2 linked regions of the Homo sapiens genome follow. The protein of the gene in region 2 purifies or fractionates together with the protein of the main gene of each other region. This does not show direct contact. Each region holds a gene or a part of one and is shown on either strand. Other genes may lie near its edges.

The links. The genes of interacting proteins can lie anywhere in the genome.
Region 1: the proteins of TOR1A (region 2) and CANX purify together in Homo sapiens (affinity purification with mass spectrometry; 5 studies listed by BioGRID and IntAct, with this or other methods). This does not show direct contact.

The regions. Positions count from the first base shown.
Region 1 is NC_000005.10:179,715,835-179,723,252, forward strand, and holds part of CANX (calnexin isoform d precursor), read left to right. Parts: intron 1-64; coding exon of another isoform or gene 65-166; intron 167-270; coding exon 271-460; intron 461-3,833; coding exon 3,834-3,947; intron 3,948-4,569; coding exon 4,570-4,726; intron 4,727-6,969; coding exon 6,970-7,185; intron 7,186-7,418. UniProt on the Homo sapiens protein: Calcium-binding protein that interacts with newly synthesized monoglucosylated glycoproteins in the endoplasmic reticulum. It may act in assisting protein assembly and/or in the retention within the ER of unassembled protein subunits.
Region 2 is NC_000009.12:129,813,723-129,821,140, forward strand, and holds part of TOR1A (torsin-1A precursor), read right to left. Parts: intron 5,199-7,418; coding exon 5,023-5,198; intron 4,926-5,022; coding exon 4,798-4,925; intron 501-4,797; coding exon 250-500; 3' UTR 1-249. UniProt on the Homo sapiens protein: Protein with chaperone functions important for the control of protein folding, processing, stability and localization as well as for the reduction of misfolded protein aggregates.

The DNA of each region.
Region 1 (7,418 bases), on a different chromosome or scaffold from region 2:
TTAGTGTCTATAAGTCAAGTCTTTGGTGTTAAAGATTTTAACTATCATTTGCTGTAATTCTTAGAAAGCCGAGGGACTAATCATTTATGTTTCGTGCATAAGGAAATGGGCGTTAGCTTCCCCAAGACCCCAGGAGCCAGGCATTGTTCTTACCCCAAAGCCTCAGGTCAGACTTCTGCTGCTTCACGTTAGAAGTCATGATCTTTTGTATTATGGTAAAGGGAGCTTGGAAAATTAAGTACTTTTAATTCCATTTAATGTTTCTTTCAGTCTTGAATCCAGATAATAGTTTTGAAATACTGGTTGACCAATCTGTGGTGAATAGTGGAAATCTGCTCAATGACATGACTCCTCCTGTAAATCCTTCACGTGAAATTGAGGACCCAGAAGACCGGAAGCCCGAGGATTGGGATGAAAGACCAAAAATCCCAGATCCAGAAGCTGTCAAGCCAGATGACTGGTGAGTCTTGGGGAACTGTCTTCAAGTGTAAGGGAGCATTTCATATATTCCATGTGGCTTGAACAACGAAATGTTGGTTGAGTAAGCTCTGATAATTTCAGTAATCCATGATGCAGTCTAATCTGTAGGGAAAATATAGAGTACTATAGCTGGAAAGGGGCCATAGTGTAATCATCTGGATTGACTCACCATTTTACAAGCCACAGAATGCCACACTTGATAAGAGTTTGTCTGTGGTGACACTGTTGGTTTGTGGCAGAATCTCAGGTCCTTTAACCTGGCTACTCCAGGGCTTCTGTGAACTCACATTTAAAGCCAAAGTTCTGAAATGCTAAATTTTAATTTGAAAAATAACCTTTTTCCTATTTAAACAACAGTCAATTCTCTGCTGTGGGTTGGGTGGTAGAATACAAAGCCACAAGGACACCACCATCTGCCTACACAGAGCTTGAAGTCCAGTTGTGAGGCATGATGTTGGCATGTGGTATCGTAAGGGTTCATGAGAAGGTGCCACAGGAGACCAGAGCACCAGGTGTACCTAAACTAGGCATGGTTTCTTGGAGCAAGGCAAATCAGATTGAGACTTGGCAGTGAGGTGAGAATTAAGGAGTTGGTGAATATGGGAAGGGGTGTTTCTGATTGAAGAATGTCGTATGCAGAAGTAGAGGAGCAGCAATGAGCTTGACATGCGAGGGAGAAATTACATGGCCTTTTATGTAGGGTGCACATTGAAGAGTGAGGAGAAATGAAGATAGCTGGGGCTGTATTCTTGTATATGGCTGTCTTTGAACTTGCAACTTCACACAGTGACTCCAGAAATGTCAGAAAGTGAACAAAGAAATTCTTACCCTTTGTAAAATATCCTCCTATGCTTAGCAATTACATTCTAGATTATCTTTTTCCTCCTTGAAAGGTAAGATACATATAACTGAACTTTTGTACTGCACTAGTATAAATGCCAAGTTTACTTGTATATTTGGTGTATATTAGATTTGGACTTAGCCTTGTTCAGTATTATATTCCTTAACTAGCTTTATCACCTAAGAAGGCCCCTGTACCCATTAAGCGGCCACTCCCTGTTTCCTCCCCCAACTCCCAGCAACCACTAACCTGCTTTCTGCCTCTCTACATTTGTCCACTTTGTATATTTCATATAAAATGGAATCATACAGTATGTGGCTTTCTCTGTCCAGTTTCTTTCATTTAGCACAGTGTTTTCCAGGTTTATCTGTGTTGAAGCATGTATCAGTACTGCATTCCTTTTTATGATTGAATAAATTCTACTGTTTTGATAATGCCACATTTTATTTATCCATCCTTTGGTGGACATTTAGGTTGTTTGCTCCTTTTTGTCTGTGATTATGAATAATGCTGCTATGAATGTTCATGTACTGGTTTTTACATAAATATGTTTTTTCTTTTCTTGCTTTTTTTTTTTTGAGATGGAGTGTAGCTCTGTCGCCCAGGCTGGAGTGCAGTGGCGCCATCACGGCTCACTGCAACCTCTGTCTCCCGAGTTCAAGTGATTCTCCCGCCCTAGCCTCCCAAGTAGCTGGGATCACAAGCGCATGCCACCACACCCAGCTAATTTTTGTATTTTTAGTAGACACGGGGTTTTACCATGTTGGTCAGGCTGATCTCGATCTCCTGACCTCAGGTGATCTACCCGCCTCAGCCTCCCAAAGTGCTGGGATTGCAGGCGTGAGCCACCACACCTGGCCTCTTTTCTTTAGACATGATCTCTGTGTTGCCCAGGTGGGAGTACAGTGGTACGGTCACGGCTCACTGCAGCTTCCACTTTCTGGGGTCAAGCGATCCTCTCCCGCCTTAGCTTCTCAAGTAGCTGGGACTGCAGGTATGCACGCCTGGCTAATTTTTATGGGTTTTTTGTTTGTTTGTTGAGACAGAGTCTCGTTTTGTCACCCAGGCTGGAGTGCAGTGGCACGATCTCGTCTCATTGCAACCTCTGCCTCCCGGGTTCAAACGATTCTCGTGCCTCAGCATCCCAAGTAGCTGGGACTACAAGCGTGCACCACTGCACTCGTGCCTCACCCTCCAAGTAGCTGGGACTACAAGCGCGCACTACTACAAAAAATTCTTGTATTTTTAGTAGAGATGGGATTTCACCATGTTGGCCAGGATGGTCTCAAAATTCTGATGTCAAGTGATCTACCAGCCTCAGCCTCCCAAAGTGCTGGGATTACAGGCGTGTGCCACCGTGCCTGGCTGTGCATGTTTTTTCTTTTTTTTTGAGACGGAGCTTCGCTCTTGTCGCCCAGGCTGGAGTGTAGTGGCGTGATCTTGGCTCACCACAACCTCTGCCTCCCGGTTTCAAGTGATTCTCCTGCCTCAGCCTCCTGAGTAGCTGGGATTACAGGCATGTGCCACCACGCCCAGCTAATTTTGTATTTTTAGTAGAGATGGGGTTTCTCCATGTTGGTCAGGCTGGTCTCAAACTCCCGACCTCAGGTGATCTGCCCACCTTGGCCTCCCAAAGTGCTAGGATTACAGGCATGAGCCACTACACCTGGCTTAATTTTTGTATTTTTTGGTAGAGACAGGGTGTCGTCATATTGGTCAGGCCGGTCTTGAACTCCTGTCCTCAGGTGATCCACCCGCCTTGGCCTCCCAAAGTGCTGGGATTACAGGTGTGAGCCACCGCACCTGGCCTTGTGTATTTTTTTTTTTTTACTAGAGACTGGGTTTCACCTTGTTGCCCAGGCTGGTGTGGCCTCAAGTGATCCTCCTGCCTTGGCCTCCCAAAGTGCTGAGATTACAGGCATGAGCCACTCTGTCTAGCTATAGATATATATTTTCATTTCTCTTGGGTATATATACCTAAAAGTGGAATTGCTGGGTCATGTGGTAACTAACTTTTTGAGAAACTGCCAAACTGTTTTCCAAATGAGCAGTACCATTTTACTTTCCCACCAGCAGTGTATGAGGGTTTCAGTTTCTCTGCGTTCTTTCCAGCATTTGTTTTTATGAGTCTTTTTTATTAGAGCCAACTTGGTACTAAGTGGTATCGTTTTGATTTGCCATTTCCCTGATGGCTAATGATGTTAAGCATCTTTTCGTGTGCTTATTGTATGTTCATATTGTATATTTTTACATTCGTATGTCTTCTTTGGAGAAATGTCTATTAAAATCATTTGCCCATTTTTAAATTGGGTTGTCTTTATATTATTGAGTTGTAAAGAGTTATTTTACTAGGCCCTTAGCAGATATATGATTTACAAGTATTTTCTAAGAGGAATTATTTTAAATTTTGAGATTAAAAACAAATTTTTTTAGAATACTCTGTTCTGATCCACAAAGTGGTACTATACTGTGACCAGTGTTGTCATAACTGGCTTTTTCTTTTGTATTTAAGGGATGAAGATGCCCCTGCTAAGATTCCAGATGAAGAGGCCACAAAACCCGAAGGCTGGTTAGATGATGAGCCTGAGTACGTACCTGATCCAGACGCAGAGAAACCTGAGGATTGGTAAGAACTTCAGTTAACTTTTTTTAATTACCTGGTTTTTTTGTTTGTTTTTTTTTTTGAGATGGAGTCTCACTCTGTCTCCCAGGCTGGAGTTCAGTGGCGCAGTTTCGGCTCACTGCAACTTTCACCTCCTGGGTTCAAGTGATTCTCCTCCATCAGCCTTGCGAGTAGCTGGGATTACAGGTGTGTGCCACCACACCCGGCAAATTTTTGTATTTTTTGTATTTTTAGTAGAGACGGACTTTCACCGTGTTGGCCAGGCTGGTCTCAAAGTCCTGACCTCAAGTGATCTGTCTGCCTTGGCCTCCCAAAGTGCTGGGATTACAGGCGTGAGCCACCACACCCAGCATAAGTTACCTGTTTTTATTGAAGTCAATCTTAATACTTAAATATAGCCAAGTTCCCTAATTTCAGGGTAGAATTTGACAATTTTAATTATATTTTCTTCTTTTTTAAAAAATAAATTTTTCCTGAAAAACTGTTATTACTGGAAATACAGGAGAAGCTGGTCTGGGATACTGTGAAAACATTTCAGCAGGATCTTGGCAGCCCTGGGCCAGCCAGCTGTTCATAGTCCTGCATCACAGAACCTGTTTATAATTTGTTGTTTGTACCTCCGTAGGGATGAAGACATGGATGGAGAATGGGAGGCTCCTCAGATTGCCAACCCTAGATGTGAGTCAGCTCCTGGATGTGGTGTCTGGCAGCGACCTGTGATTGACAACCCCAATTATAAAGGCAAATGGAAGCCTCCTATGATTGACAATCCCAGTTACCAGGTTTGTGCCTCTTGATGGTTGAGTTGCTTTCATTAATCTGTTTGTATTCAGATAGAAGTTTTATCTAGAGTAAGGCTGCCAGGTTGGTCATTATATTCAAGCTGTTGAATTAAAAGCAGAAAGTAGACTTCCTAAGTTGAAAGAGAGCTTAATGGGTTAGGTATTGCAAAGATAAACCTAGAAACTGGAGTGAATAACTTTCTTTAACTTTATTTATTTATTTATTTATTTATTTATTTTTGAGATGGAGTTTCGCTCTTCTACCCAGGCTGGAGGGCAGTGGTGTGATGTCGCCTCACTGCAACCTCTGCCTTCCGGTTTCAAGCGATTCTCTTGCCTCAGACTCCCGAGTAGCTGGGATTACAGGTGCCTGCCACCACGCCTGGCTAATTTTTATATTTTTAGCAGAGATGGTGTTTCACCATGTTGGCCAGGCTGGTCTCGAACTCCTGACCTCGCGATCCGCCCACCTCAACCTCCTAAAGTGCTGGGATTACAGGCGTGAGCCACTGCATCTGGTCAACTTTCTTTTTTTGAGACTGAGTCTCACTCTAGTGGCCAGGCTGGAGTGCAATGGCTCAGTCTCGGCACACTGCCACCTCCACCTCCTGGGTTCAAGCAATTCTCCTGACTCAGCCTCCCGAGTAGCTGGGAGCACAGGTGTGCTCACAGGTGTGCTCACCTCACCTGGCTGATTTTTTGTATTTTTAGTAGAGACGGGGCTTCGCCATGTTGGCCAGGCTGGTCTCGAACTCCTGACCTCAGGTGATCCACCTGCCTTCGCCTTTCGAAGTCCTGGGGTTTCAGGCGGGAGCCACTGTGCCCAGCCAAGAATAACTTTCATAGTTGCTTTGTAACTATATTTAAAAACAAAAGAGAAATGGAAAACTGTTGATTTGGGTACCCTGCTCTTGGGTGCTAGGGTTGCTTCAGCCATAGGATCCACAGCTGAGTCTGGACAATCTGTGATGTGGTGGGTAGAGGACTGTGGTTTGAGTCAGCATCTTGACTACATCAAGTCAGCTCACTGCTTGGCCTCAATGCTTGCAACTATAAAAAGACTGAGGCCCAAAAGAGATGGTAAGGATACAAGTAGTAAGGTTGTGAGGCTTTAGGCCTCATGCAAAAATGTACACCCTCAGACCTTTGTTCCTTTTATCTTTCTAGCCAAGTAAAATTATTTATAATCTCTACAAAGAGTGGCAATTAAAATTATTTATAATCATTAATTTCTACTTTATTTATATACAAATACTAATATATGTATATACATATACAGAAACAGGAGAAGCTGGTCTGATACTGTGAAAACATTTCAGCAGGATCTTGGCATAGTATATGTATATATACATATACTAATATATGTTTTTCTGTTTGTAAATTTTTTATTTTTTTCCTCATAGTCGTTAAAGATGTTATGTGAATGTATTTTTAATTGTGTAGTCAAACAATAAGATAAAAGTTTTACTTTAAAAAAGTTGCCCTTTAGGCTGGGCGTAGTGGCTCACGCCTATAATCCCAGCACTTGAGAGGCTGAGGTGGGTGGATCACCTGAGGTCAGCCATTCGAGACCAGCCTGGCCAACATAGTGAAACACCATCTCTACTAAAAGCACAAAAATTGGCCTGGTATGGTGGCACACACCTGTAGTCCCAGCTGCTTAGGCACGAGGCTGAGGCACAAGGATCACTTGAACACAGGAGGCAGAAGTTACAGTGAAAAAGAAGTTGCCCTTTAGTTGTTCTCCTGTTGGTGGCCATTTAGGTGGATTGTCACTTTTGCTTTCAGAGTCACTGCTGCTGTAATAATCCTTGTACATGTCTGGGTGTATGTTGTGAGTATTTCTCTAGGTAGTTATCTAGAAGTGAATTGCTGGTTGATGATCATGTGCGTTTTATTTTAAATCACCACTGAAGAAGTACGTACTGACTTATGCTCCCACTCTCATTAGCAGTTGCTAAGAGTGGAGGCTGTTGAATGGGCCAGGAACTTGAGGGGTTGGTTTGGACCAAGGTCATGGGTGACAGTAGAAATTGGAAGTAGTTGGAATCCTGCAGTCTTAGAGGCAGAGTGCGTAAAATAATCTGTAGCATTTGTTATTTATTTTCCTGTTGCTTATTTCAAGTTTCATGAAGTTGGCATTTCTCTCCATTGTTCATGCAAAATTTCTCTTACGGTAGATTCACCATAAACTTTTGTTGATCATTATCTGAAATGATTTTCTGAAACATTTTTTTTTCTAGGGAATCTGGAAACCCAGGAAAATACCAAATCCAGATTTCTTTGAAGATCTGGAACCTTTCAGAATGACTCCTTTTAGTGCTATTGGTTTGGAGCTGTGGTCCATGACCTCTGACATTTTTTTTGACAACTTTATCATTTGTGCTGATCGAAGAATAGTTGATGATTGGGCCAATGATGGATGGGGCCTGAAGAAAGCTGCTGATGGGGCTGCTGAGGTTCGTGTTTGCTGCTTGTGCATTTGTGTCTGTTATTGTAAGGAGCTGTTATTTTGTGAAAGTCTGTGTTAAGGTTTTTTTTCTTCATTTGGCAATATTGGCATAAAAAGTATAACCATATGCCTGCAAAAGACACAATATTGGGTTTTGGGGCATGATTTCATTAGTCTAATGTAGTGGCTTTAGAGTCTGTTTGTGTTCAGGGTTTTTTTTTTATTATTTGTCTGGGTATA
Region 2 (7,418 bases):
AGTGGGCTGGGAGCTGGCTCCTTCCTTCTGTGCGTGTTCGGGAGGCTTCACGTCCTCGCCCGTGGTCCCTGGGTGGCCTGCAGGCACCAGGGGGTGGAAACAATGCCAGGGAGAATTCCTGTCACATCAAACAGGAACATTCACTGGATTCCTCTTCCAGGGAAAGGAGCTGGGGGTGGAAGTGTGGAAGGACTGAGTGTTGTTTCTTTTCCAACTCCAGGCAGTGACTCCGGCTGCCAATCATGACTGTCAATCATCGTAGTAATAATCTAACTTGGTGAACACCGTTTTGCAGCCTTTATCTGAGAAAACTCTCTCCTCTTTGGGGAAAAATGTCATCTCCTCAGCCACTCTGCTTACAATGTCTTCATCAATTTCATAGCCTCGGGACTGCATTTCCACTCGGATACACATTTTTAGGTGTTTGTATTCCAGGGGGAGGAAGGGAACAAAATAATCAATGAGGTTCCGGTCAATTAAGCTGCTGTGCCAGAAGCCACCTGGGAAGAAGAAACAAGGTGCTGTTCATCCACATCCACCCACCTGCCCTATAGACGCCTCCTGGGGGTCACTTACCTACCCTCCCATCCGTCCCACAAACGTCTACTGGGGGTCACCTATCCATGCCACACACACCTACTGGGGGTCACCCACCCACCCCCCCCACATCTACTAGGGGTCACCCACCCTCCCATCCATCCCATACACACCTACTGGGTGTCATCCACCCTCCTATCCATCCCATACACATCTACTGGGTGTCATCCACCCTCCTATCCATCCCACACATACCTACTGGGTGTGCCCTCTCCCTTGTGGAGCTCCAGATCAGTGGGGAAGGCAGATGTTAACAGGCACCTGCACATTGTAATGCTTCTGTGACAGCAGAAGCTGTGACAGCCCTCTTTACACGGCGGGCTGGGGGAGGCCTCCCAAGGTATGACTTAAGAGATCGAAGATGGGAAAGAGGTCCTGGGGCCCAGGAACAAGCAGAGAGGCAGAGTGGGGAAGGCAGAGTTCCACAGAAAGCGGGAAGCAAGAAGAATTCCCGGGAAGGACTACCAGCCACGCCTCTGTATTTGGGAACTTTTTGACTCTCCCTGGAGTTTCAGCAGCTGGACTAGCAACAGGGAAGCCTGCTGCCGCTGCCACAGTGCCCAGACCCTGCAGAGCATGTGGGCACCAAAACTAGCCTGGAGAGTGCAGATGTGCAGCCCACGCTGGGCTCCCCGTGAAGGCCTGGCCTTGGCCGTGTTTTCTCCCCTGAATGCGGGCTGGCTCTGCACTGACCCGTCCACTCCTCCTGGGCTCCTGGAACTCCTGACCCAGGACACTTCCTCCCAGCCCCAGATGACACAGCACACACTGCGTCGCCCACGAGCCCATGCGTGTCTTCTACTGAGCTGATTCCCTTCTGGTCTGCCATGTAATTCTGGGGCTCCGTCCCCAACCCAAGCTCCTCCTCATTCACTGGGTTAATGCTTTTCATGCCCAACAGTGCTTTGCACACAACTGGTACTCAATAAATGTGTGGCTGACTGACAGAGTGGAGCCTATGGCCAGGGAAAGAACAGAACCAACCACTGAATGGGAACGAGGGGCTGTCTTGCTATCATGAACTCACGTGGGAGGCTGGTTCTCAGAGGCCTGCTCTGTGCCAGGCACGCCCTGGGCCTGGGGACACAGCTGAGGGCAGACGGACCTCACGGCTTTACCACTCTAGGGCAGGAAACAATCTCAGATGGTGCTTGGAGTGGCGAATGCCACACAGCAGAACGGACATGGAGAGCGGGAGGTGGAGCAGGCTGGGCAGGACCTCAGGGCAGAGCCCGAGCAACAAGGACCCAGCCACGCAGACCCAGGAGTGACGGCAGAACAGGTGACCTCAGGCAGCCCTGAGACTTCACAGTCATCTCCTGAGGACTCCCAAGTTTGCCCTCCTGGCCTGATGGCCTCCCTGGAGCTTCGTGGCTCTGCTCTGATGCCCTGATGCCATTGCCCACTGAGCTCGCCCGTCCTTCCTGCTGTCCCTTCCCTTCAATGGCAGTGCCACCCTTCCCATCGCTCAAGCCAGGTCCTTGATTCTTCTCTCATTCCCATATACAATTCTGCAGGAAGTCTTACAGGTTCTACCTTCAAAACACACCCAGAAGCCAACCGTGTCCCTCCACCCCCACCGCTTCCACGCTGGGCTCCCTGCCCCTGTGGCTGTGGGTCTGTCCTCCATCCAGTTGCCAGCAAGGTCCTGTGAAGGCCCCGTCAGATCACAGCACCACCTGCCCAGGACCCTCCAGGCCTCTCTCTTCCACTTGGAATAAGACTCAAGGTTCACCATGGCCCGCCAGGCTTCCCACGGTCTGCACCTCCACCCCAAATCTCGCCTCTTCTATCACCTCCCGTTTCCCTCCTCTGTTTATCCTCAACCAGTCACAGGGACCCCAAGCACAGGCCCCCCTCGGGCCCCTGGACGTGCTGTCCGCACTGGGGAATGCTTTTCCCTCAGACATCCACATGGCTCACTCCCCCGGGTCAGCCCAAATGCCACCCTCACAGGGAGCCTTCCCTGTCCACTCTATTAAAGCAGAGCCCATCCTTACCCTGAACCCCAAAGCCTTTCTTGATTTTTTTCCCCTACTGGCCCCGGGGGGAAAGATATCTATATGTCCACATGTGTACATGTGCGATGTGTGCATATGTACTGCATGTATACACACAAACACATCACACACATCAACATATCTATCCCCCATCATCTGATACATTTTCTTTCTTTATTATCACTAGGATGTAGGATTGATAAGGGCAAGAATTTCTGTGTTTGTTCACTGCTGTGTCCCCCGTCCTAGGTATGATGCCTGGCACTTACCAGATGCTCCATATACATGTGCTGAATCAATGTTCAGCCATCTGCCTGAGGTCACAGTCAGTCTGTGGGCCAGGGCTGCCCGACTCCCAGGTTGGCACTCCTAAGCACCGTGTAACCTCCACAGCGTGGATTCTAGGCCACGGGGCTCATCTGCCTCAGCATTAGGCTAAAGTTTCCACTGCATGTGCTCATGTTTTTTGGCAAGGCAAGAAACTATCCAACATGTTACAAAATACTTGTCTTTCCTCAGTAGTATTCCACTTGCACACACTGACATACTGTACCCCATGCTGTTCACTAACTGTAGGATTAATTTCTTGGCAAGTCTGTTTCAAATGAGCCCTTCTGTTTTGTCATCTCCAGAACCTGAAGCGCAAAGACTTGAACAGCCAGCCCTGCACAACTCACAGGTCTTAGCCAGTGAGTCAGCCTCCATCAGGCTGGCTTTCCACCTCCCCAGGTTCAAGGTCAAAGGTCTCATGACATTTGGAGAAGTAGTGAGCTAAAACTTAAAAGCTCAGGTTTTAGAATCAGAGATACCGAACAGGCTGCATGGCCCTGGGCAAGCTGCCACATCTCTGAGTCTCAGTCTCTACCCTGCGAGGTATGGTGAAGACTGAGTGAAATCCGCAGGCAGGCTGTTTCACACGGTGCCCAGTACAAAATAAGGGCCGAACCGCTATTTGGCTGTTGCTCTTGGGCAATGCAGAGAAAGGGAGGAACTAACAGGTCATCTCTCCCCCTGAGCTGCCCACGGCATCCTTCCTTGCTCAACCACTGGCTCTTTCTTCTACAAAGAAAATCATGTAGCTGAAGAAAATGGGGGAACTGGCCAGGCGTGGTGGCTCACGCCTGTAATCCCAGCACTTTGGGAGGCCGAGGCAGGCGGATCACGAGGTCAGGAGATAAGACCATCCTGGCTAACATGGTGAAACCCCGTTTCTACTAAAAATACAAAAAATTTGCCGAGTGTGGTGGCAGGTGCCTGTAGTCCCAGCTACTCGGCAGGCTGAGGCAGGAGAATGGTGTGAACCTGGGAGGCAGAGCTTGCAGTGAGCCGAGATCGCGCCACTGCACTCCAGCCTGGGCAACAGAGCGAGACTCCATCTCAAAAAAAAAAAAAAAACAGCAGGCCAGGTATGTAGCTCATGCCTATAATTCCAGCACTTTGGGAGGCTGAGGCGGGAGGATGACTTAAGTCCAGGAAGTCAAGACCAGCCTGGGAAACATAGGAAGACCCAGTCTCTACCAAAAAAAAAAAAAAAAAAAAAAAAAAAAATTAGCCAGGCATGGTGGCGCAAGCCTGTGGTTCCACCTACATGGGAAGCTGAGGCTGGAGGATCACTTGAGCCTAGGAAGTCAAGACTCCAGTGAGCTGAGATCACACCACTGGACTCCAGCCTGGGTGACAGAGTGAGACTCTGTCTCAAAAAATAAGCTGAGCACAGTGGCTCACGCCTGTAATCCCAGCACTTTGGGAGGCCGAGGTGGGCGGATCACCTGAGGTAAGAGTTCAAGACCAGCCTGGCCAACATGACAAAACCCCATCTCTACTAAAAATACAAATATTAGCTGGGCATGGTGTGCACCTGTAATCCCAGCTACTCAGGAGGCTGAGGCACAAGAATCGCTTGAGCCCGGGAGGCAGAGGTTGCAGTGAGGCAAGGTTACGCCACTGCACTCCAGCCTAGGTGACAGAGTAAAACTATCTGAAAAATAAAAATAAAACAGCACTTGTCAAACATTAGTGTTCATAAAAGTTACCTGGAGTTCATCAGCAAAGATTCCCCTCATGACTCGGAAGGGGACTGAGAATCTGCATTTCTTTCTACCCAGCTCCCAGGTGATGCTGACAGTGACCCTGATGCTTTTAACACTTAGGGTGCAGGATTAGGAACCAGATGGGACTGGCGGTGGATGGCCCTACTCACTGTTCTTGTTATTGAAAACCGACACAGACAACGCGTGTTCAATGTCTTTGAGCTTGATGTCTTCCCTCTGCTTTCCACTCCTCCAGAAATCCAAAGCCACATCTGTGATCCTTTCTGCTCCAGCATTGCTGCAAAACAATCCCAGTGGGTAAGGACAGGGTTTTCTCCTGGAGCTCAGAGGCTTGGGCTCGGGGCCCATCCATCATGTCCTAGCCCTGACCTTACCTGAGAAATATGAACATGGCTTTCTGGTAGGAGACCCCATCCACCAGGTCATAATAGTCGAGGAAAGGCTTGATGGCATCTATGAGGCCTGCATGCATCTTATCCATTTCATCAAATATGAAGATGGACCTCGCACAGGCACTCACGTTGCCTCGAATCCACAACTGTAACTGATCCTGAATTAAAAGGGGAAAAAGCGAACACAAAGTTCTCAGCCAGGGCCATCAATCAGCTCCTTCTACCACTAAGAACCGCAGCTTCACTTACAGACCACTGTGCACTCGGCACTAAGAACTTTACATGCCCAAAATCTTCTTTGTTCCTACCAACCCCATGGAGTGGGCACTATCGTTCTCATTTTACAGATGAGGGAACTGAGGCACAGAGAGCGCTTACTCCACTTGCCCAAGACTATATGTGGCAGAGCTGGGACCTGAACCCAGTCCTGTCTCACTCCAAAGCCCGATACTTTGGTTACGGTTCCCGCACTGCGAGATGCCACACGGATGCTGTCAGAGATGCTGCTCTTTTGTCATCAAAGGGGCAATGTGGGATGTCATGAGGATACTGATTTTTATTTAAAAAGGGGGTGGGGTCGGGCATGGTGGCTCACACCTGTAATCCCAGCACTTTGGGAGGCTGAGGCAGACGGATAAGTTGAGGTCAGGGGTTTGAGACCAGCCTGGCCAACATGGTGAAACCCCATCTCTATTAAAATACAAAAATTAGGGCCAGGCATGGTGGTTCATGCCTGTAATCCCAGCACTTTGGGAGGCCAAAGTGGGTGGATCACCTGAGGTCAGGAGTTCAAGACCAGCCTGGCCAACATGGTGAAACCTGGTCTCTACTAAAAAAAATACAAAAAAATTAGCTGGGTATGGTGGCAGGTGCTTATAGTCCCAGCTACTCAGGAGGCTGAGGTAGAATTGCATGAACCTGGGAGGCGGAGGTTGCGGTGAGCCAAGATCAAGCCATTGCACTCCAGCGTGGCGACAGAGCAAGACTCCATTAAAAAAAAAAATACAAAAATTAGCCAGGCATAGTGGCAGGCGCCTGTAATCCCAGGTACTTGGGAGGCTGAGGCTTGAGAATCGCTGGAACCTGGGAGGTGGAGGTTGCAGTGAGCTAAGATCACCCCACTGCACTCCAGCACTCCAGCCTGGGAGACAGAGCAAGACTCCGTCTCAAAAAAAAAAAATAATAATAATAATAAATAAATAAAATAAAATAAAATAAATAAATAAAATAAACAAGGATTCACTCAGACCTGTTAGGCTCCAGCAGCCAAGGTTTCTCACTCTGGTGACCAAACTTATATGCAATAACAGGGAACATGCACTGAGTGTTCACTATGGGAACAACAATATTCTAAGCACTGTTCATATAACTTTTTTTTTTTGACAGTCTCGCTCTGTTACCCAGACTGGAGTGCAATGACATGATCTCAGCTCACTGCAACCTCTGCCTCCCAGATTCAAGCGATTCCCTTGCCTCAGCCCCCTGAGTAGCTGAGACTACAGGCACCTGCCACCACGCCCAGCTAATTTTTGTATTTTTAGTAGAGATGGGGTTTCACCATCTTGGCCAGGCTGGTCTTGAACTCTTGACCTTGTGATCCACCCGCTTCGGCCTCCCAAAGTGCTGGGATTACAGGCGCGAGCCACCACACCTGGTCTGTTCATAGAACATTTTACTGTGACCTCCCAAAACCCATCACGGTAGTTACCATTGTGCTCCTTCTTTTACAAATGAGAAAACTGAGGCACAGACAAGTGAAGTAACTTTGCCCAAAGTCACAGTTATTGTTAGTGAAGCCTCAATTCTAAGATGATCAACTTATCCTGATTCGTCTAGAATGGTTCTTGTTTGTTTGGGACAGGGTCTCACTCCGTCACCCAGGCTGGACTGCAGTGGCTGTCTGCTCACTGCAGCCTCGACCTCCCAGGTTCAAGCCATCCTTCTGCCTCAGCCCCCTAAGTAGCTGGGACTACAGGTGCATGCCACCATGCCTGACTAATTTTTTTGTATTTTTTTAGTAGAGATGGGGTTTCACCATGTTCCCCAGGCTGGTCTGGAACTCTTGAGCTCAAGGGATCAGCCGGTTTTGGCTTCCCGTAGTGCTAGAATTATAGGCATGAGCCACCACACCCGTGGAACATTCGCATTTTAGTACAGAACCGCTGGACAGTGGGTGACCCACACGCTCACCCAGACAGAAGGGAAAAATGTGTTCACATTTTTCCATAGATACAGTCAGGGATAAATAACTGATTGAGGCCAGGCATGGTGGCTCATACCTGTAATTTCAGCACTTTGGGAAGTAGAGACAGCTGGATGACCTTGAGGTCAGGAGTTTGAGACCAGCCTGGCCAACAAGGTGAAACCCTGTCTCTATT